Regions from separate parts of the Homo sapiens genome. Here region 1 is linked to region 2. The links come from fine-mapping of genetic effects on gene expression. A gene starts in region 2. The other region holds a variant in brackets. All regions are shown on one strand. Distances are from middle to middle. Region 1 overlaps SYNJ2 (synaptojanin 2). Region 2 holds the start of SERAC1 (serine active site containing 1).

What was found. PIP is the estimated chance that this variant, and not a neighbour inherited with it, causes the effect.
Region 1: its variant is fine-mapped to the expression of SERAC1 in whole blood (GTEx, PIP 0.94).

What each region holds. Positions count from the first base shown.
Region 1 is chr6:158,086,780-158,097,354 of GRCh38, forward strand. It overlaps SYNJ2 (synaptojanin 2), which reads left to right. Exons shown (of 27, transcript NM_003898.4): 23 at 76-210; 24 at 1,881-1,993; 25 at 3,060-3,168; 26 at 6,147-6,325; 27 at 8,839-10,575. The coding sequence ends at 9,585. Among named protein-coding and RNA genes, the nearest start is that of SERAC1, 76 kb to the right of the region's middle. RefSeq lists an enhancer at 9,104-9,604. The variant A/T (reference allele first, on the strand shown) is at 4,251.
Region 2 is chr6:158,163,633-158,174,207 of GRCh38, forward strand. It overlaps SERAC1 (serine active site containing 1), which reads right to left and starts at 4,630. Exons shown (of 17, transcript NM_032861.4): 1 at 4,508-4,630. It overlaps GTF2H5 (general transcription factor IIH subunit 5), which reads left to right and starts at 4,718. Exons shown (of 3, transcript NM_207118.3): 1 at 4,718-4,763; 2 at 6,838-6,906. The coding sequence starts at 6,872. RefSeq lists silencers at 4,428-4,497, 4,538-4,717.

The DNA.
Region 1 (10,575 bases), 77 kb before region 2:
CTGTGCTCAGATCCGTGTCTGACACGCTCACGTGTGGAACAGACCATTGTACTCATGCCCCGCCATGTCCTCCAGATGACGCGGACCTGGTGGAGCTCAAGCGGGAGCTGGAAGCCGTCGGGGAGTTCCGCCACCGTTCTCCGAGCAGGTCTCTGTCGGTCCCCAACCGGCCTCGGCCACCTCAACCCCCGCAGAGACCCCCCCCTCCAAGTAAGACTCTGCTTGCTTTCAGCTCCCTGGATGCCTGCCAGGAATAACCGCGCGTTCCCTGCTACTGAAAACACGGCTCCGAATCCACTTCTCCCCGGCCTTCCGGTCCCCACAGGGCTTCCTCCTCCTTGGGCTCCGTTTTGTTGTAAATCCAGGACACGTTTGACGTCAGGGCTGGTTGTGTTTCTCATGGCAAATGAAACAGCTCCTTTCCAAAGCTGCTGTTCACCCTGGAGCTGTGCTATTGCTTCAAACTGCTCTCCCTTGGCAGCATTAGAGGATGCAGAATGGGGGCCGCAGCCATGGGAGGGACGTGAGCTTCGCAGTCAGAAGTCTCTCCTCAGCTGCTGCGCAGTCCTCCCTCTACTTATGAGGAATCTGGTAAACCCAGGTCCCCGCCTGGAGGTGACCTGGTCACCCCTCTGCGCTCCGAGGCCTCCTGTTCCCCGGGCTCAGAACAAGTTCCCCCTTATCCTGGGTCTAGGAGCATTTTCTTCTGGTTGTTCGAACAATGCTTTGCCCGTCCAGCCCTCCCTGATAACCTGAAAGCAAAGCTGTGATGTGCTTTTGATCCACTTGCATTTTCCCACCACTGTTTACTTCTCCCTCCCCAAAAATGTGATGATCAGACTTAGATCTTCCTAAGCCATTACTTCAGAATTGGGCTCATTGTGGCTGACGTCACGGTAGTAACCAATGGCAAGCCACAAGCCCAGATATAAAAATAACCCAAAAATAAAATGCATAAGTCATGTATTATTGTGGAAATTTTAGAGATAACTACAAAGAAGAACAAAATTTTAAAATTCACTTGATGACCTACGGGTCGTAGTTGTTGAAAAAAGTCTTCTTTTTCCAGTTTCATGTATCTGCAGCAACATACTTCTTTTTTTTTTTTTTTTTTTTTAACAAAATTAATACCCATTTTCTCTGGTCGGTTGTCTTTTATTTAATGGGTTATATTTTCTGTGTCATTGAATGTTCTAAAACATGATTTGTTAATGGCTGCAAGTATATTTTAACAGTTTATTCCCCTGCTTTGGAATTTTTTTTTTTTTTTTTTTTTTTTTTTTTTTTTTTTTTTTTTTTGAGATGGGCTCATTCTGTCCCCCGGGCTGGAGTGCAGTGGTGCGATCTCACAGCTCACTGAAGCCTTGACCTCCCCGGCTCAAGCAATCCTCCTACCTCAGCCTGCCAAGTAGCTAGGACTGCAGGCGCATACCATCAGGCTTGGCTATTTTTATTCATTTATTTATTTATTTTGTAGAGACAGTTTCACCATGTTGCCCAGGCTGGGGTTTTTGAAATATTTTTTCCCCACAAAATATTTTAAAAATCTGGTCCTAGCAATAGTATTTGGAACCATTTCAAAATCAATTGGTTTTTATATCAGATCTGAATCCCCCAAGATGTTAAAGTTTGCATTCTAGTAATGCTTCTCCAGATCATCTACATCAATAGGCACACACTGGTAGAATCAAGTGAGAAACTCCATAGAGAGTCAAGGAAGGCCTGGCTCTGTGGGTGCCCTAAGTGCCGAGTGAGTATTCGGACCTCACCGTGTCTGTGGTCTGCTGGGACATCCGCCTCGTCTAGTCGGGCTCCTGGCAGCTGGCTGGGAAGTTGTGCCTTCACTGAGATTGAGACTCTGCCCTCGTTGGTTTTTACAGCCGGTTTAATGGTGAAAAAGTCGGCTTCAGATGCGTCCATCTCCTCCGGCACCCATGGACAGTATTCAATTTTGCAGACGGCAAGACTTCTACCAGGAGCACCTCAGCAACCTGTGAGTTCTTCTGCATACATTTCAATCCCAAGGGTTTTGCCCCCGGGATAGTGTGGGATCTCTCTTCTCAGTGAATATATAGATTTATGTGTCTTTAACCCTCTACCTGCTCACCATCTCATCTCCAAACCCCATAACCCTTCCTCGCAGGTTCTCCATAGGGCTTTTAAATGGTTGTATGGAGTGTTCTAGAAAAAATCACTTTTGATGAAAAATCCCAAATATCCCTGGTTTCCATACTCATCCATTTCTCTCTCTTCCCATTCTTGCCTCTGACCTTGGTGTATGGGCAGAGCATTGCTTGGTAGAAGGGAAAATGGGAGAAATTCAGGTCGTTATCCTGGGAAAATGATGATCATTCTGGAGTGAAGTTGGTTGAGAGAAGAGGCTAAAAAGAGATGTAAATAATGAAGTTGGGGAACACACTAGGAAGACTAACAGCCATAGAGGATTGTGGAGGTGCCTGGTTCCAGAGGGTACCATGAGCTGCTGGGGAAGAGAGCAGGTGAAGGCAGGGAAGTAGAGGGGAGAGAGGGGAAGCTGGGTGCTAGGGGGAAACTGCTATGACCGGGATGCCTCTGGGGTGCTGGGCCTGGTTAAGTGCTTGTGCGGCCCCAGCAGGTGGAGGGGTGACTGGAGGCCAGTGTTTTACAGTAGTGAAAATAGGTCATAAAGGCAACCCACATGCTGGATGAAGAAGTAGAAAAAGCACTTTTAAGGAAGGTATTTTAACAACTCAGTGGGACCATGGAAAGAGTGGCCTCTTATTTTGCTTTCTGGCTTTCACCTGGTTATTGAAAAAAAGATAGAAGATGGTCTGTCCATATGCAAAAATCTGTAATCACCCGGCTTTGAAGACCAGGGTCATCAGGTCTAAGTAGTATGGCACTCTTGGAAAGAGAGTGCTCCAGGAAAGAGAGGATTGCAGGGTGTGGTGGAGGCTGGAGTTTGTATGGTCAGCATCGTCTGGTGGAGCCCTGCACAGACCCACGGGTAGCAGATACGTCCCACGAGGCTGTCCTCCTGCCTCTGCTGATACTCTGCTCTTCCTCATTCTGTCCTCAAGCCCAAGGCTCGGACTGGAATAAGTAAACCTTATAATGTCAAGCAGATCAAAACCACCAATGCCCAGGAGGCAGAAGCAGCAATCCGGTGTCTCCTGGAAGCCAGAGGAGGTAGGTGCTTTCCTGGGGGCAGGGGAAAAACCAATTCTCCTTTTCTTTTTATCTCCCTGCTAAAAGTGGTCTAGAAACGAAAATAACTCTTTTTATTCTTCTGGAGGCAATATTAAATGAAAACATCCTTTAGCAACATTTTATATAAATCTATACTAAGATTGATTGTCCATTTAAAATTGTATTTTCAAAATTCTGTGTGTATATAAAAATCATCCCAGGGCTATTAAGCGGCGTCTAAAGGAGAGACCGAAAAAAACCAAAATGAGTTTTTAAAAAAGGTGAATGCTGCCGGCATGAAGTCATTCTGCCAGCTTTATAAAACAGAGACAGTTATAGTGTTTGTCCTAATTTCAGGCACAAAATCTACCTTTTAAATCACTGGCAAGTGGAAATAAAGTTTTTAGTGTCAGGCAGGGACCTCTTTCCCACCACATTATTTTTTGTTGCTGTTACTTAAACCATGTTAGTTACCTTGGGCTCTCCCCCACTTCATTCATAATCACTGGTAATTTACACTTTTAGTTTTGGCCTTGGCTTTGTTCCAGAATCTCCTAGAGAGGAGAGTGTGCCCTTTTCTTCGTTTTTTTTTTTGTTTTTTTTTTTTTTTTTTTTGAGACTGAGTTTCACTCTGTCAGCTGGACTGGAGTGCAGTGGCTCAATCCCAGGTCACTGCAACCTCCGCCTCCCAGGTTCGAGCAAATATCCTGCCTCAGCCACCTGAGTAGCTGGGACTACAGGCGCGCAGCCCCATGATGAGCCAATTTTTGTATTTTCAGTAGAAATGTGATTTCACCTTGTTGGCCAGGCTGGTCTTGAACTCCCAACCTCAGGTGATTCATCCACCTTGGCCTCCTAAAGTGCTGGGATTACAGGTGTGAGCCACCACACCTGGCCGAGTGTGCCCTTTAAAAAGGTGTAAGCAATCACCATTGCTTAATTTGCTTTTAGTCAGCATGTTTAACTTCTTTGGAATTCTCAAATAATATTTAAGGGGGCATGAGTTAAAAGGTCGAGAACTACTGTTGTAGAATGATACTGCTACAAATGCTTTCTTTTTTTTTATTTTAGAAAAATAACTA[A/T]AACTAGGCCGGGCGCGGTGGCTCACGCCTGTAATCCCAGCACTTTGGGAGGCCGAGGCGGGTGGATCACGAGGACAGGAAATCGAGACCATCCTGGCTAACACGGTGAAACCCCGTCTCTACTAAAAATTCAAAAAATTAGCCGGGCGTGATGGTGGGTGACTGTAGTCCCAGCTACTCAGGAGGCTGAGGCAGGAGAATGGCTGAGCCCGGGAGGTGGAGCTCGCAGTGAGCCAAGATTGCACCACTGCACTCCAGCCTGGGTGACAGAGCAAGACTCCGTCTCAAAAAAAGAAAAAAGAAAGAAAGAAAAATAACTAAAACTATGGATATAACAACCCAAGTGTCCATCAGCTGATAAATGGATAAACAAAATGTGGTCCATCAATACAATGGAATATTGTTCAGCCATTAAAAAAAAAAAGAATGGGGCTGGGTGCTGGGTGCAGTGGCTCACGCCTGTAATCCCAGCGCTTTGGGAGGCCGAGGCAGGCGGATCACGAGGTTAGGAGATCGAGACCATCCTGGCTAACACAGTGAAACTCCATCTCTACTAAAAATACAAAAAAATTAGCCGGGCGTGGTGGCACGTGCCTGTTAGTCCCAGTTACTCGGGAGGCTGAGGCAGAAGAATCATTTGAACTGGGGAGGCAGAGGTTGCAGTGAGCCAAGATAACGCCACTGCACTCCAGCCTGGGTGACAGAGCTAGACTCTGTCTCATAAAAAAAAAAAAAAAAAAGAATGAAGTGCTGATACATACTACTTCATGGGTGGACCTTGAAGACATTATACTATGTGAAAGAAAGAAAAAAAGGCCACATAGTGTACCATCCCCTTTTTATGAAATGGCCACAGCAGGCAAATTCATGGGGTCAGAAAGTTCTTCTTGCTTTCCAGGGACTGGAAGGAGGCCTGGGTGGGGAGTGGCTGCTGTGGGGCTTCTTTTTTGTGTGATGAAAATGTTCTGGAGTTAGATCGTATGATGGTTGCACAACTTTGTGGATACACTAAAAACCAATGAATGGTACACTTAGAAAGGGTGAATTTCACGGTATGTGAATTATGTCACAATAAAGCTGTTAAAAAAAAAAAAACTCTAGAGATGTAGATGTTAGTAGAGGTGTGAAATCTACCTACAGTCCCGGCTTAACACTTTCTTGGTCATGGCCCCATTGAGATTTTGATGTCTTTGGATCATCTACCCTGAGAAATGTAAGTACACATGAGACTTTGCATATGATCTCAGGGTCTCACTGGTCCCCATCCAAACTATCCACAGACCCCAGATCACCACCCCTGCTAGGAAGGTGAGCATGAAAACCTGGGACTGCTGGGTGCGGTGGCTCACGCCTGTAATCCCAGCACTTTGAGAGGCTGGGGTGGGAGGACTGCTTGAATCCAGGAGTTCGAGACAAGTCTGGGCAACACAATGAGACCCTCTCTCTACAAAAATTTTAAAATTAGCTGGGCGTGGTGGTTCACACCAGTAGTCCCAGCTACTTGGGAGGCTGAGGTAAGAAGACTGCATGAGCCCAGGAGTTCCAGCAACATAGTGAGACCTCATCTCTACTAAAAATTTTAAAAATTGGCTGGGCGTGGCAGTGCTCACCCGTAATCCCAGCTACTCAGGAGGCTGAAATGGGAGAATTGCTCGAGCCTGGGAGGTTGAGACTGCAGTGAGCCGTGATCATGCCGCTGCACTCCGGCCTGGGTGGCAGAGCGAGAGCCCATCTTAAAAAAGAAAAAAGAAAAAAAGCTGGGACTGAATCTAGCTGATTACTCCTGAAATACACTGAATTAGTAAATGACACTTAGGATGTAGACTGTCTAAGGACGAAATCATGCAGTGAATTGCCTTGTCCTTTACACTTCAGCCATGTGGTTTTATGTTTCAGGTGCCTCCGAAGAAGCCCTAAGTGCCGTGGCCCCAAGGGACCTTGAAGCATCCTCTGAACCAGAGCCCACACCGGGGGCAGCCAAACCAGAGACCCCACAGGCGCCCCCACTCCTTCCCCGTCGGCCCCCACCCAGAGTTCCTGCCATCAAGAAGCCAACCTTGAGAAGGACAGGAAAGGTAAAAGCCTGGTAACATAAAACCTCTTACTCCTAAGTTGCTCACATGTCTCGATAGATAAGAATTGTGGCCTGTAATCCCAGCACATTGGGAAGCCGAGGCAAGCGGATTACGAGGTCAGGAGTTCAAGACCAGCCTGACCAACATGGTGTGAAACCCCGTCTCTACTAAAAATAGAAAAATTAGCCGGGCGTGGTGGCGCACGCCTGTAATCCCAGCTACTCAGGAGGCTGAGGCAGGAGAATCACTTGAACCCAGGAGGCAGAGGTTGCAGTGAGCCGAAATCGTGCCACTGCATTCCAGCCTGAGCAGCAGAGTGAGACTCCACCTCAAAAAAAAAAAAAACAAAAAAAAAAAAACAGATTTGCGTCTCACAGATAAAAATCTAGTTCCCTATGGACATCCTCACGTTCATGAGTCCCAGACACAGGTGTGTCTTTGGGGAAAGTTTTGACAACTGCTTCTTCCCTCATATCCTACTGTGTCTTGGCTCTGGCTGAGAAGAACGAGGAGTCCACTGTCTGGCACATTGTCAGTGTGACAAGAACAGCTTGGAGGTATTATGCTTCCTAAGTGTTTTGAGTCCCCAAAGGGAACCATAGTGGGATGCTTTTCCCCACATGTTCTGGTACCGCCCATTTGCGTGTGGTCTGTGTTGTGTGCACATGGTTTCAAGGCATTAGGAAAACAGTAACCGATTCCCAGATTCGCCATGTTCACATGCTCTCGTGCGGCCTCAGCCTACGAGAGGTTCCACAGCTTTTCTTGCCACTTTTCTTGCAGATTGTTTTTTGCTCTCGCTCTCAAGCTTCTCAGCCTTGCTTACTGCTTCAAAGACATGAGTTTGTAAGGACAGTAGCAGCCCAAAGACTGGCATCTGTAGACACATCTGGATCTTCCGTTTGATCTCAGTGTTCTAGTAACGGACCCTCGGTAATCCCTTCCTGGTCATCACAGCACGATGCTGCTTCCCCCCTAGAGAGTGTGAGGGGGGCTTCGGCTTCACTCTTGACAGCGCTTGCTTTGTATTTCCTGGGTTGCTCTTCTGTCCCACATTGGCTCATTGCCATCTGTCCCTTGTCCATGCTTCCTTACAAAGTGGACCTTTTTCCTCCGCCTCTTCCCTGTTCAGATGCTCCTCGACTTAAAATGGGGTTACATCCCAATAAACCCATCGTAAGTTGAAAAATAGCGTGTCAAAACTGCATCTCATACACCTAACCTAGCAAACGTCATGGTCTCGCTGACCTTGAACACACTCAGAACACATACATTAGCCTACGGCTGGGCAAAAAAAAAAAAAAAAAAAAAAAACACCCATCCAACACAGCCTATTTTATAATAATAAAAATAAAAGATCAAACTTCAAAATTCAAAGTATGCTTTCTACGGAACATTAGCGCTTGTGCACTAGGGTGAAGTGGAAAATCCTCAGTGGAACCATTGTAAGTCGGGGACCACCTGCTTTGTCTTTTCTTGTAAAAGCCAGGAGCAGAAATAGATTCATTTTCCCAACCTGCTGCACAGGAGTTAAAGTTAAAAGGCTGTTGGAAAAGAGACTTTCTTTTTTCTTAGTTTGTTTTCTAAAGAACCAAAGAAACACTGAAACGCCAATGTTTAACTAGTCTACTGATCACCTTTTCTGAACAAAAGCTTCATTTTGCCTGTGCAGTTGTTTTCTTTGTGATAGATTTGAACCAGAACCAAGGCAGTGTCAAGGTTTCCATTCTTTACCAATATTTAAGTATAAAAGATTCAAGGAGCTGGGCGCGGTGGCTCACGCGTGTAATCCCAGCACTTTGGGAGGCTGAGGCGGGTGGATCACCTGAGGTCAGGAGTTCAAGACCAGCCTGACCAACATGGTGAAACCCCGTCTCTACTACAAAATACAAAAATTAGCCAGGCATGGTGGCAGGCGCCTGCAATCCCAGCTACTCGGGAGGCTGAAGCAGGAGAATCGCTTGAACCTGGGAGGCGGAGGTTACAGTGAGCTGAGATTGCGCCATTGCACTCCAGCCTGGGGGACAGGGCGAGACTCCTTCTCAAAAAAAAAAAAAAAATTCAAGGAGAAAGTATATCCATTAGTCCTTCAGTTAGCTTATGTTGTAACACAAGTTACTTCACCCTAGCATGATACAGACCATGAATCAGCCCAGGTTGCAACTTCAAAGAGTGTTTTCAGAGAGGTTTGCTTTCAATAAAGGAAGAGCATCACCCCATTTCCTAAAGGACAAAGAAAAGTTTGTCTGATTATTTACTGTGGCCCTGGTTTTAAATTTTCCACTCGTTTTCATTGGACCTGCTGGTGTGACCTGATAAATGTGTGTTTCTCCTGTGCTTTTTCTTTTTCTTACCTGGTCACATTTCTGGCACCCCACACATTCTCAAATCTCGAATTTGCTAGAATGTCAGCTTGGTCTCATCTCTGTTCTCTGCTGGCCACTCTGTTCTCTGATCCTCAGCTGCCTAGTTATTGGCTTCTTATTTACACTCTTTGTCCCACCTTTTCTCAGCCCCTGTCACCGGAAGAACAGTTTGAGCAACAGACTGTCCATTTTACAATCGGGCCCCCGGAGACAAGCGTTGAGGCCCCTCCTGTCGTGACAGCCCCTCGAGTCCCTCCTGTTCCCAAACCAAGAACATTTCAGCCTGGGAAAGCTGCAGAGAGGCCAAGCCACAGGAAGCCAGCATCAGACGAAGCCCCTCCTGGGGCAGGAGCCTCTGTGCCACCACCTCTGGAGGCGCCGCCTCTTGTGCCCAAGGTACCCCCGAGGAGGAAGAAGTCAGCCCCCGCAGCCTTCCACCTGCAGGTCCTGCAGAGCAACAGCCAGCTTCTCCAGGGCCTCACTTACAATAGCAGTGACAGCCCCTCTGGGCACCCACCTGCCGCGGGCACCGTCTTCCCACAAGGGGACTTTCTCAGCACTTCATCTGCTACAAGCCCCGACAGCGATGGCACCAAAGCGATGAAGCCAGAGGCAGCCCCACTTCTTGGTGATTATCAGGACCCCTTCTGGAACCTTCTTCACCACCCTAAACTGTTGAATAACACTTGGCTTTCTAAGAGCTCAGACCCTTTGGACTCAGGAACCAGGAGCCCCAAAAGAGATCCCATAGACCCAGTGTCAGCTGGCGCTTCAGCTGCCAAGGCAGAGCTGCCACCAGATCATGAACACAAAACCTTAGGTCACTGGGTGACAATCAGTGACCAAGAAAAGAGGACAGCACTGCAGGTGTTTGACCCACTGGCAAAAACATGACTGAGCAGCTTTGAAGGCTGCAGTCCTATAGAATGCATACCTTCCTCCCTCTAGACATCCCTCCACCAGAAGAGACATCTATTTAAAGGCACACTGGCCAAAACGTTTGTGCATCTGTCACTCTCGTGTAGTTTACAAAAATCGTGTCTCTTATTCAGTAAGATGGTTACTCAGCCACCAAAATATATTTCACTCAAGGCTTGTACATCTGAAGTTTGCTCTTCAAGGAATGGGAACCTTCCTGTTAAATTCGGTGTATGGATTTTAAGAAAGGAATCTAGCCAATGAGGTCCAAGAAGTTCTCACCCATTGAATTTTTAAATGGCTGTTCAGTTCATGTTGTACGTGATGGAGATTTGTCTTTTGTTTTATTTGCATTTTACAGATTTGGTATAACATTTTGGGGAGCCACCTGAAGGTTGATGTATAAAGTAAGGATTAGAGAAAGAGGTCGTTGTGACCATTAGTAGCTGTCCTGGCCCACTTAAACAAGGTTACAAAAAATCAGAGTCGGAAGCAGCCAAATAGGTCAACCTAATGACTAGACTGTACATTCCCATGAGCCTTCATGTTTAAGTGTGTACATGTGCGTTAACCTTGATGATGCGTGAATCCCGAGGGAGCCGGTGGCATACACCGTTAGCTTAACCTTAGCTTAAACTAGCTGAAGGCTCCTGTGCCATGTCTTAGACATTGCATGCCCTATCAATTACTATAATCCTGAGCCATGGTGTGCTACTGAAACCAATTTTTATCCACCATCTAGTCCTTATTAAATGAAACCTCACGGATCCTTTGTTCCGCTTATATTCCATGCATACCACATAAAAGCACACAGTGCGAAAACTCTTGCTGATACGCGATATTGATTCTCATTGTTAGAATATGGAGAGTGTTTCAGCCTCGTCTGTCCGGCTGGAGCTTCGGGATGGAAAGTGCTATGTGTCCCTGCATATAAGAATCACCAGGCCAGTGTTTCTGGGTTTGCTT
Region 2 (10,575 bases):
ACCCTAATGGAATACATATGTATGGACCTATTCCACTCCATCGATCTATTTATCTATCCTTATATAAACACTGCACTGTTTAGATTATGTAGGTTTTTTGTTGTTTTTTGTTTTCTTTTTGACAGAGTCTCACTCTGTCGCCCAGGCAGGATGGAGTGCAGTGGCCTGATCTCAGCTCACTGCAACCTCCGCCTCCCAGGTTCAAGCAATTCTCCTGCCTCAGCCTCCCAAGTAGCTGGGATTACAGATGCCCACCACCATACCTGGCTAATTTTTGTATTTTGGGTAGAGACAGGGTTTCACCATCTTGGCCAGGCTGGTCTTGAACTCTTGACCTCGTGATCCACCCGCCTCGGCTTCCCAAAGTGCTGGGATTACAGGTGTGAGCCACCGCACCAGGCAGATTACTGTAGTTTTTAAAGTAAGTCTTGAAGCTAGTAGTATAAATTTTCCAGCTGTGTCCTTCCTTTTCAAGACGGACTATTCTAGGTCCTTGGTACTTCCACATAATTTTAGAGTCTGCTTGTCAATTTCTATTTAAAAGCACCTTTAAGATTATGGGGCCAGGCACGGTGGCTCACGCCTGTAATCCCAGCACTTTGGGAGGCCGAGGCAGGAGGATCACGAGGTCAGGAGATCGAGACCAGCCTGGATAACCCGGTGAAACCCCATCTCTACTAAAAATTCAAAAAATTAGCTGGGTGTGGTGGCGGGCACCTGTAGTCCCAGCTACTCAGGAGGCTGAGGCAGGAGAATGGCGTGAAACTAGGAGGTGCAGCTTGCAGTGAGCAAAGATTGCGCCACGGCAGTCCAGCCTGGGCGACAGAGCGAGACTCCATCTCAAAAAAATATATATATATATTATGACGGTGATTACATAAAATCTGAAACACTGATTTTAAGTAGAGAACGGAGAAATTTTGAGACTAAGAAAGACACAGAAAATAAAAGGGAAGAGATTATAATTTAAAAATAAAACAAATATTTGAAAATTCCATTAAGTTTAACAATATGGAGGTCACTGGGATCTTCATATCAGTAGCTTCATTGCCCTGGTGGAGGAAGCCAGAGTGAAACATCATTTCATGCTTTCATTCTGATTAATAAAACGTGAGTTGTAGCTAGGTACACAGACAACAAAAAAGACTACATCACCTTTCTTTCTTTCTAGTTAACTATGGGCACTTACAAAGAATTGGCTAATGAAATATGAGTGGATGTGTCATGTGCAATTTCTGAAAAGTGTCCTTAAAAAGAAGGGTATGTGCCTTTCTTCCTCCTTCCCTCCTCCCTCTTGCTAGAATGAGCAACTGACAGTTTGAATTAAAGCAGTCATCTTAACACCAAGCATCTTATTAAGGACGGTAGAGCAGCCAGATAGAAGAATCCGAGTCCCTGATGATTACAGAGCTGCTTCCATAAAAGCATGGCTGCCTACCTATGCAATTACATACATATTTAAGCCAGTATTATCTTGTTTTCTGTGTAACACAGCTGATTCCAACACACCACAGTTTTTTGTTTTTTGGTTTTTTTTTTGAGACAGAGTCTCTCACTCTGTCACCCAGGCTGGAGTGCAGTGGCGCGATCTCGGCTCACTGCAAACTCCGTCTCCCAGGTTCACACCATTCTCCTGCCTCAGCCTCCCAAGTAGCTGGGACTACAGGCGGCTGCCACCACGCCCAGCTATTTTTTTGTATTTTTAGTACAGACGGGGTTTCACCGTGTTATCCAGGATGGTCTCAATCTCCTGACCTCGTGATCCACCCGCCTCGGCCTACCAAAGTGCTGGGATTACAAGCGTGAGCCACCGTGCCCGGCCCAGTTCTTAATATCTATATGCCAGTGATCTCAGAGTACCTCTAGCTACGATCTTTCCTGACCTATCTATCCAACAGCTATTGGAACATTTCCACTTGGATGTCCAACAGGCCTTTCATACTCAACTGTCCAAAAGAGAATTCTTTACTTTTTCTCCCCAAACTCTTCCTCCACAAATCTTCTCCATCACTATCCATCAAATGGTCAATGCTTTTTGATTGTAAATGGTAAATGATCTACCTCTTAACTGAAGCAAAAAAACAGATGTTGCCCTTGATTCCTTGTTTTCCCCTTACTCTACATCTAAACCACGCAGAGTTGCTCTTCTCTACCATCAAAACATACCCCCAAATCCATCCATTTTTCTCTGTATTCACTGCTACACTCTTGTCTAGTTCAAGCCAACATCATCTCTCATTTGGAGTAATAAAATGACACCTCAAAGGTGCTTTTTGTAACTTAAGAAATCCTTCTCAGAGACATTTAAAAAAAAAGTTCTGGAGATAGATAGTAGTGCTGGTTGCACAATGTGAATGTCACTGAACTCAACAACTCAACATGGTTAACATGATAAATCTTATGTGTAACAAGATTTAACAAAGCAAACAAAAAAGAAATCTTTCCTAGAGACAATGGTCTCTTATATTCCTTTCCAAATACCTTGCAGCTGTGCCATTCACATTTAGGTCTTTATCTGGAAACTGTTGTCAATAGTTTGAAAGTAAGAATCTAATCCTGTCTGTATACCATAACAATGCCAGATATCTCAGCAACCATATATTTCATCATCCTTTATTGAATAGTCTATGCTTTCCCCCTGCTTTGCAATACCACTTAGTGGTATACTAAACTCCCGTATGTAAATAGGTATGTTTCTAGTGTCTCTATTCTGTTCCATGAATCTAATTCTCTATCCCTGAATCAATATCATACCATCTTAATAATTACAACTTTATATTAAGCTTTGGTATCTGATAGGGAGAGACCTTATTTTTCTTCTTCTTCAAAATTGACTTCACTATTCTTGGTCCCTTGCCTTTCCATATAAATTTTAAGTTCAGCATGGCAAATTCCATAAAACAATATGGTGATTTTAATTGGCATTACACTGAATTCGTAGAACTGAGGAAAACTGACATCTTTTTGTTGAGTCTTTCCATCTATTAATACGGTATATCTCACCATTTACTTGGGTCATCTTTTGTGTTCCAACAGAGCCTTACAATTTTCTGTCTAAAGGACTACACAGCTTTAGGTTCATCTATTTCTAGGTACCTTTAGTTTTGAATGCCATTATGAATAGTGTCTTTTTATTATTAAAACTCCTAGTTAATTGTTACTGGTATACAGAAGTTTTTAAATGCAGAAATTAAGGCCATTTCTGACATCCCCCTGGCCAAAATAACCCCTCTAGTCACTCTTTATCACATCACCAAATGGTACTTATTCCTTAACTGATTTCAGAGTCTCTCTGCCCCCACCAAAATTAGTTACCTGTTCACCATTGTATCCCAAGCGTCTAGAATAATAGCTGACACACATCAAGTGCACAAAAATGGAACTGATGAGATCAAGGAAGAGAATGTATGCAAGATGAAAAAAAGCAAATAAAAGATACTTGGGAAGAAGAAGACTTGGAGGCAATTTTTTTATTTTAAAGAGAGTGCAACAATATGGAAATCACCAGTTGGAAAAGATTTGAGGGATAGAAAGAGGGAACTAAATGGAAGAGCTGGGTTCCTTAGCGATCACATGAACACACACGATGTTAAAAAAAAAAAAAAAAAAAAAAAGGCAGCATGAGGTCGGGCGCGGTGGCTCACACCTGTAATCGCAGCACTCTGGGAGGCCGAGGCGGGGGATCACCTGATGTCAGGAATTCCAGACCAGCCTGGCCAACATGGACAAACCCCGTGTCTACTAAAAATACGAAAATCAGCCGGGCGTGGTAGCGCACGCCTGTAATCCCAGTTACTAGGGAGAATGAGGCAGGATAATTGCTTGAACCCAGGAGACGGAGGTTGCAGTGAGCCCAGATCGCGCCACTGCACTCCAGCCTGGCAGACAGACCGAGACTCCATCTCAAAAAAAAAAAAAAAAAAGGCAGCATGAGCTTAATGCGGGAAGTACAATTTAACCTAAGGAACAGAAAACAAGAATCTCATATCTCAACTAGTAAAAATAATGACAGTGTTCCTTTAGACTTACAGAACAGACTTGGGGAAAGGGAGTAACTTTAGAACCTTCTGGGGTCTTTCACTTTAAAATGACCGTTGCCGAGTTTAGAGCTCTCTCAGCATTCAATCTATTCCATCTCTGGGGTTAGAGAGGGAGCAGGAAGCGGTGGTCTGCAAGGCTCAGAAGTGACTGGTGAGGCCCTTTCCTCCTCCTCCTCATCTCTCCGTGACTACCGAGCCCGGGAAGACGGACCGGCAGGTGCACTCCCCAAGGCCTCGACAGCAGCCAGAGAAAGGCAGCGACAGGGAAAGACGAGTCAGGCTCGCGACCACCAGAGAGAGAGGCCCTCACGCCCAGCCGAGCGTCAGCTGGTCGGTCCGGTCCGCGCGCCAGACGGCGGTGCTCGGCCGTGCCCGGTCCCTGCCCTCCCCATTCTCCGCTCCCCACCGCGCCCAGCTGCGCCGACGCCCCCGTCCGCCCCCACACCACCCCTGCCTTCACGTCCTACCTGCCGGCAGGCGGACTCAGCCCGTGCCCAACTGCTCGTCGGACCCCGTTGTCTGGGGAGCCCTACTCTTTCCGCGGCTCCCGGCCGGGACCCTCCACCCGGCGGCTGGCGGCTCGTGACCCCGCCCCCTCGGCCCGCTCTGGGCCCGCCTCCCGCCGGCTGGCTCCACCCACAATAGCGTCCCTAGCGCGATGGCGTATCGGCGCAGGCGCACTCTGCCGGCAACGCCGAGGCGCTTCTGCATCTGTGGGCCGAGGTGTGTGGCGAGCGTCCGAGCGGCTGGGGAAAGTGGGGTGTGGGAACACTGAGGGGTCCCAAAGAAAGGGGAGAGGAAGAGAAAAGCCCCAGAAGCCTGTCCACCGGGTGCTGGGGGCACAGGGCGGTGTCCCCCACTCTCTCCGGGCCCTTCCTGGCGGGGCCGCACGGCAGTCCCCCCCTCGTTTAATCGTGGGTTTCCTGTGGGGCTAGGGCTCGCCCTGCGCCCAGGTGTAAGTGGAAGTTAATTAAATGGGCGTACGCTGAGTGGTTTGTTTCCAGCCTAGGTCCGCACGGGACGTGATTTATTTAGTGAAGGGGCACAAGATCTGGAGATCTGGCTTGTACTTTTTTCCTTTGGCCAGGAACTACGGCTTAATCTCTTCCTTTGGTCTCCTCATATGTAAAATGAGGTGGCTGAGGCCGGGCGCGGTGGCTCACGCCTGCAATCCCAGCACATTGGGAGGCCGAGGCGGGCAAATCACTTGAGGCCAGGAGTTCGAGACCAGCCTGGCCAACATGGTGAAACCCCGTCTCCACTAAAAATACAATAAATTGGCCTGGCGCGGTGGCTCACACCTGTTGTCCCAGCACTTTGGGAGGCCGAGGTAGGTGGATCATTTGAGATCAGGAGTTCGAGACCAGCCTGGCCAACATGGTGAAACCCTGCCTCTACTAAAAATACAAAATTTGGCCTGGCGTGGTGGCGGGCGCCTGTAGTCCCCGCTGCTTGGGAGGCTGAGGCAGGAGAATCGCTTGAGCCCGGGAGGCAGAGGTTGCAGTGAGCCGACATCACGACACTGCGCTCCAGCCTGGGCGACAGAGTGAGACTCTGTCTCGAAGTGTATATATACATATATATATATTATATATGTATTTTATATATAATATATATTTATTTTATATATAATATATAATATGTATATTATGTATATTATATATAATACGTATATTATATATAATACATATATATAATATGTATATTATATATTATATATAATATTATATTGTATATTATATATTATATATAATATATTGTATATTATATATATTATATATTATATATATTATATTGTATATTATATATAATATATTGTATATTATATAATATATTGTATATTATATATAATATACAGTATATTATATATAATATACTGTATATTATATATAATATATTGTATATTATATATAATATATTGTATATTACATATATTGTATATTACATATAATATATTGTATATTACATATATTGTATATTACATATAATATATTGTATATTATATAATATATAATATATATTATATAATATATTGTATATTATATATTATATAATATATTGTATATTATATATTATATAATATATTGTATATTATATATAATATATTGTATATTATATATTATATATTGTATATTATATATTATATATAAAAGTGTGTATATATATACACACACACACACACGATACAACACAGTACATTAGCTGGGCTTAGTAGTGCATGCCTGTAGTCCCAGCTACTCGGGAGGCTGAGGTGGGAGGATCGCTTGAACCCAGGAGGCAAGAGGTTGCAGGGAGCAGAGATCGCGCCACTGCACTACAGCCTGGGCGGCAGAGCCAGACCCTGTCTCAGTAAAATAAAATATAAACTAAAAGGAGGTGGTTGGGCTCACTGTATAATTTTTGAAGCACCTTTCAGAACTATCTTCTTTGATTCCTGTCTCCCAGGATCTTACCCTTTGTCATTCTCCTGAATGGGAAAAGAAATCCTTTGAATAATGGACGGTTTATACCTGGGTTGGGCACACTGGTGTAGAGTTAGGCCTCTTGCTTCTATTAGGGCTAATTGACCTTGGGTAGAATTGGCTGGCGAGTAAGATGTGGCATTAATATTCCAAGTAGACTCATTTTAATTTTGTTAAAAAATCAGAATGTCTTTTTTCTTAATGTTAACTGTCTTTCATAGACTTAACTGTTAAATATTGACATTTAATTATTTTGCCTCGTTTCAGAGGCAGATCCCCAAAGTATATGAAAGTTAATGATTTTTAATTTAATGTTACCTTACTCTTTTTATTAGCATTCTTCAGGTCATCTGAACCTTCTGAGAAAACATGGTCAACGTCTTGAAAGGAGTGCTTATAGAATGGTTAGTAGTTTTGATACTGCATGAGTTTTAAGTTTAAATATTGAATCTTGACTTGTATGTATGTCTTTTCTAAAACCCTGTTGTTTTTAAGATATGGATGAAATCAAGTCTTTCGCTTTTAACAAGTGGCACAGATTTTGTTGCAAAGCTCCTGGTGCCAGATTTCAGTCCCTCTGTTGAATTGATGGAACTGGCATGATCAGAGGCAGCATATTTGTTAGATGAGTCGTCTTTAGAGAAACAGTGCTTGCATTCTCCTCAAACATGATGAATTTTAGGGCCTGAAAGAGTTCAGGAACTTGCTTAAGTCTTTACCATTACAAACTGTGGACTTTAAAAAAGAGAAAAACAACAGAGCCAAATGGAGGTTTCTTAAATTCCTTTAGGTACATTCCAGAGGAGAAACTAAAAACCATAAATGGGCAGAGTTGAGTTCCTCAAAGCAATCCAGTGTCCAGGAACCCCGGGAACCCTGCTCTGTGGACACTCCCATTGTCTGAAAATACTACTGTCTACTTTCGGTGCCTCTAATATGAGCCAGTGCATGGATAATGATACTGTTTACTGTGATGGCAAGGCTAAGGAGGAGCAAGACCAAACCCTAGGACACTGCCAACATTTAGAACAGCACTAGCCAATAGAAATCTAATGCAAGCCACAGATATAGTCTTACATTTTTTCTAGCCATCTTAAAAGTAACGTAAAATGAAACAGGTGAAGTTAATATCTTTTGTTTAACCCTGTCTATGCAAAACACTATGCTTTGAACACATACTAAGTCTTCAAAAAAATCTTCATCTTCAAAGTCGAATGGATATTTTAATTTTACAGCACATCTCACAGACTAACCGTGTTTCAAGGACTCTGTAGTGACCTGACTAGTGGGCTACCTTATGCATAGTGCAGATTTGGAGTTTTGATACAGGAGACACCAACAAAGGCAACTAAGAAGAAAATAGCCAGTGAGGCTGGAGGGAGGAAAGCCAAAGGAGGAAGTGTTTTGTAGGGATGAGCGGCTGTGTTGGGCACTGATTGAGAACTGGCATGAGATGAAGACTGGAGTTTTGATGAGAGCCATTTGAATGGAGTGGTGGGGAGATGCCAGATTGAAGTACTGTGGAAAAGGAAAGGGAGGTGAGGAGGTGGAGATGGAGACTTCGGAGAAGTTTTACTGTGATCATGAGCAATCTCATAGAGAACTGGATTGGTAGCTGACGAAGGACATGGTGAGGGGCTCAGGTTCTTGCTATTTTTATTTTAATGTGAAAGACTAGAATGTACGTTGATGAGAGTAAACCACTGCGGGGGAGAGGTATTCACTTGGAAAAGCAAAGGGGGTGGGATCTGGACCCCAGAAGTTCTAAACACACTGTTCTGTTGTCTTTTGAAGGCACTAGGTTTGATGTACTTATTTTCCTATTAATTTGACATAACATAAACATTTTCCTCGTTGGCCTTTAGTGTTATTTTTAAATACAGAGGATACACATACACAGAGTGTCAGCTATCACTTTTTTTCCCTCGTTTCTTCCAATTCTAAGTTTAATCTTCACCCCTGGGTTTGTTAAATATTCACTTCTCTCTTCTGAGGGTTTTGTGTTTTTCTTGGTGTTTTAGATTCATTCATCTAGAATTTATTGGGAGGAGTGGCATAGGTTTGTTAAATATTCACTTCTCTCTTGTGGGGATTTTGTGTTTTTCTTGGTGTGTTAGATTCATTCATCTAGAATTTATTCAGAGAAGAGACATATTATTAGATAAGGATCTAAATTAGCTTCTTTTTTTTTTTTTTGACACGGAGTCTTGCTCTGTTGCCAGGTTGGAGTGCAGTGGCGCGATCTTGGCTCCTGGATTCAAGCGATACTGCTGCCTCAGCTGCCCGAGTAGCTGGGATTACAGGCACACACCACCACACCCGGCTAATTTTATTTTTGTATTTTTAGTAGAAATGGGGTTTCACCATGTTGGCCAGGCTGGTCTCGATCTCTTGACCTCATGATCCACCTGCCCCGGCCTCCCAAAGTGCTGGGATTACAGGCATGAGCCACTGCACCCAGCCTAGCTTCTTTTTTGTTTTGGGTGTTTTTGTCTGTTCATTTTGCCAAATATCTAGTTCTCCACCATTATTTCCTTTCTTAATGATGCTTGATGCCTCCTTAATCACATAATTTTACTCCCCTTGCTATTCTCTTTCATCCCTTCCCACATTCATCTTTCTTGTTGCCTATTCTAGAATAACCTTGAAATAACTTAGTCTGTTTCCAAAATAATCCTTTTGGCATATTGGTTGGAATTGCATTAAACCTACGTTTTAATTTGAAAAAAAAGATGACTGGATTGCATCTTAAAGAACAAAACTCTGGGGAGACTCTGAAGTCTCAGTGCCCGGTTTGCTGTCCCGTATCTAACCTCTGAATTCTACCTGGTCTCTCTAATGACTGTCCATCACCTTGCACTTCAGGGTAATCCCCAGACTAGCAGTAATAGCATCATCTGGAGCTTGTTAGAAATGCAAAATCTCAGACCTCACCCTAAATCTACTAAATCAGAATTGTGCATACAAAGAATCTTGTTAAGATGCATTTAAATTTTGAGAAGCAATAATACTGTTAATCAGCTTCAGTTTAATAATGTTTCCCTGTGGAGAAGTGTTTTGCACCAGGACTATTAAATTTTATTTTGCAGGTTAGGTACCATCCTTGCAAAACTAATTTTTCCCTTTGAAGTGAATTCTAAAGTGTAGTCTGCACAATTTTTCAAAAGGGTAACTCTGTCTTCCCAAAAACACAAGTCTTCCAAAAAGATTTTGGGCCTAAGAAATAACATAGATTCCCAAAGGAAAGGGTATGGCCAGTGCTAGTGGATTCCCTTTCACAGTTAGATGCAGATGTTAGGATGGTAACTGGAAAAGTCCTTCAGTTTCCCTCATGTCCATATTTGATGCCAAGGAGAAGCCTGTTAATAATATGATTATCAGTATAAGTCTGTTTATTACTTCATAATATCCATGGATTGTATGAAGCATTTAGGTGTATTGGAGTATGGAATTTGATAGGTCTGGAGTTTACAGGCAGACCACTCAAGGATCTTCTACAGCTGTTGCAGGTGAATACCAAAATTGAGGCTCAGCCCTGGAAGCCAAGTTGGTTTTTGGCTTCATGCAGGAAAGAATTCAAGAATGAGCCACAGAGTAAAGTGAAAGCAAGTTTATTAAAAATGAGGGAATAAAAGGGTGGCTACCCCATAGGCAGAGTGGAGTGGGGAGGGTGGGAAGCAGGCGGGCCTGCTAACTGGCTATTTTATGGCCATTTCTTGAGTATATGTTAAACAAGGGGTGGATTATTCGTGAGTTTTCTGGAAAAGAGGCAGGGATTCTGTGGAACCAGGAGTCCCCAGTCCAGACCATACGGGGTAACTTCTAGATATTGCCATGGCATTTGTAAACTGTCGTGGTGCTGGTGGGGGTGGTTTTTAGCGTGCGCATGCATTATGATTTGTGTATGATAGTGGTGAAGGTTGCTTTTGTTGCCATCTTGGTTCTGGCTGGTTTCTTTACTGTATCCTCGCTTATCGGTGGGGTCTTCTGACCTGTTGTTTACTGTCTCTCTTGTCTTGGAAACTAGTCCTGCTGAATTCCTATCTCACAGCTGCTTCCACTGTCCCAGGAAT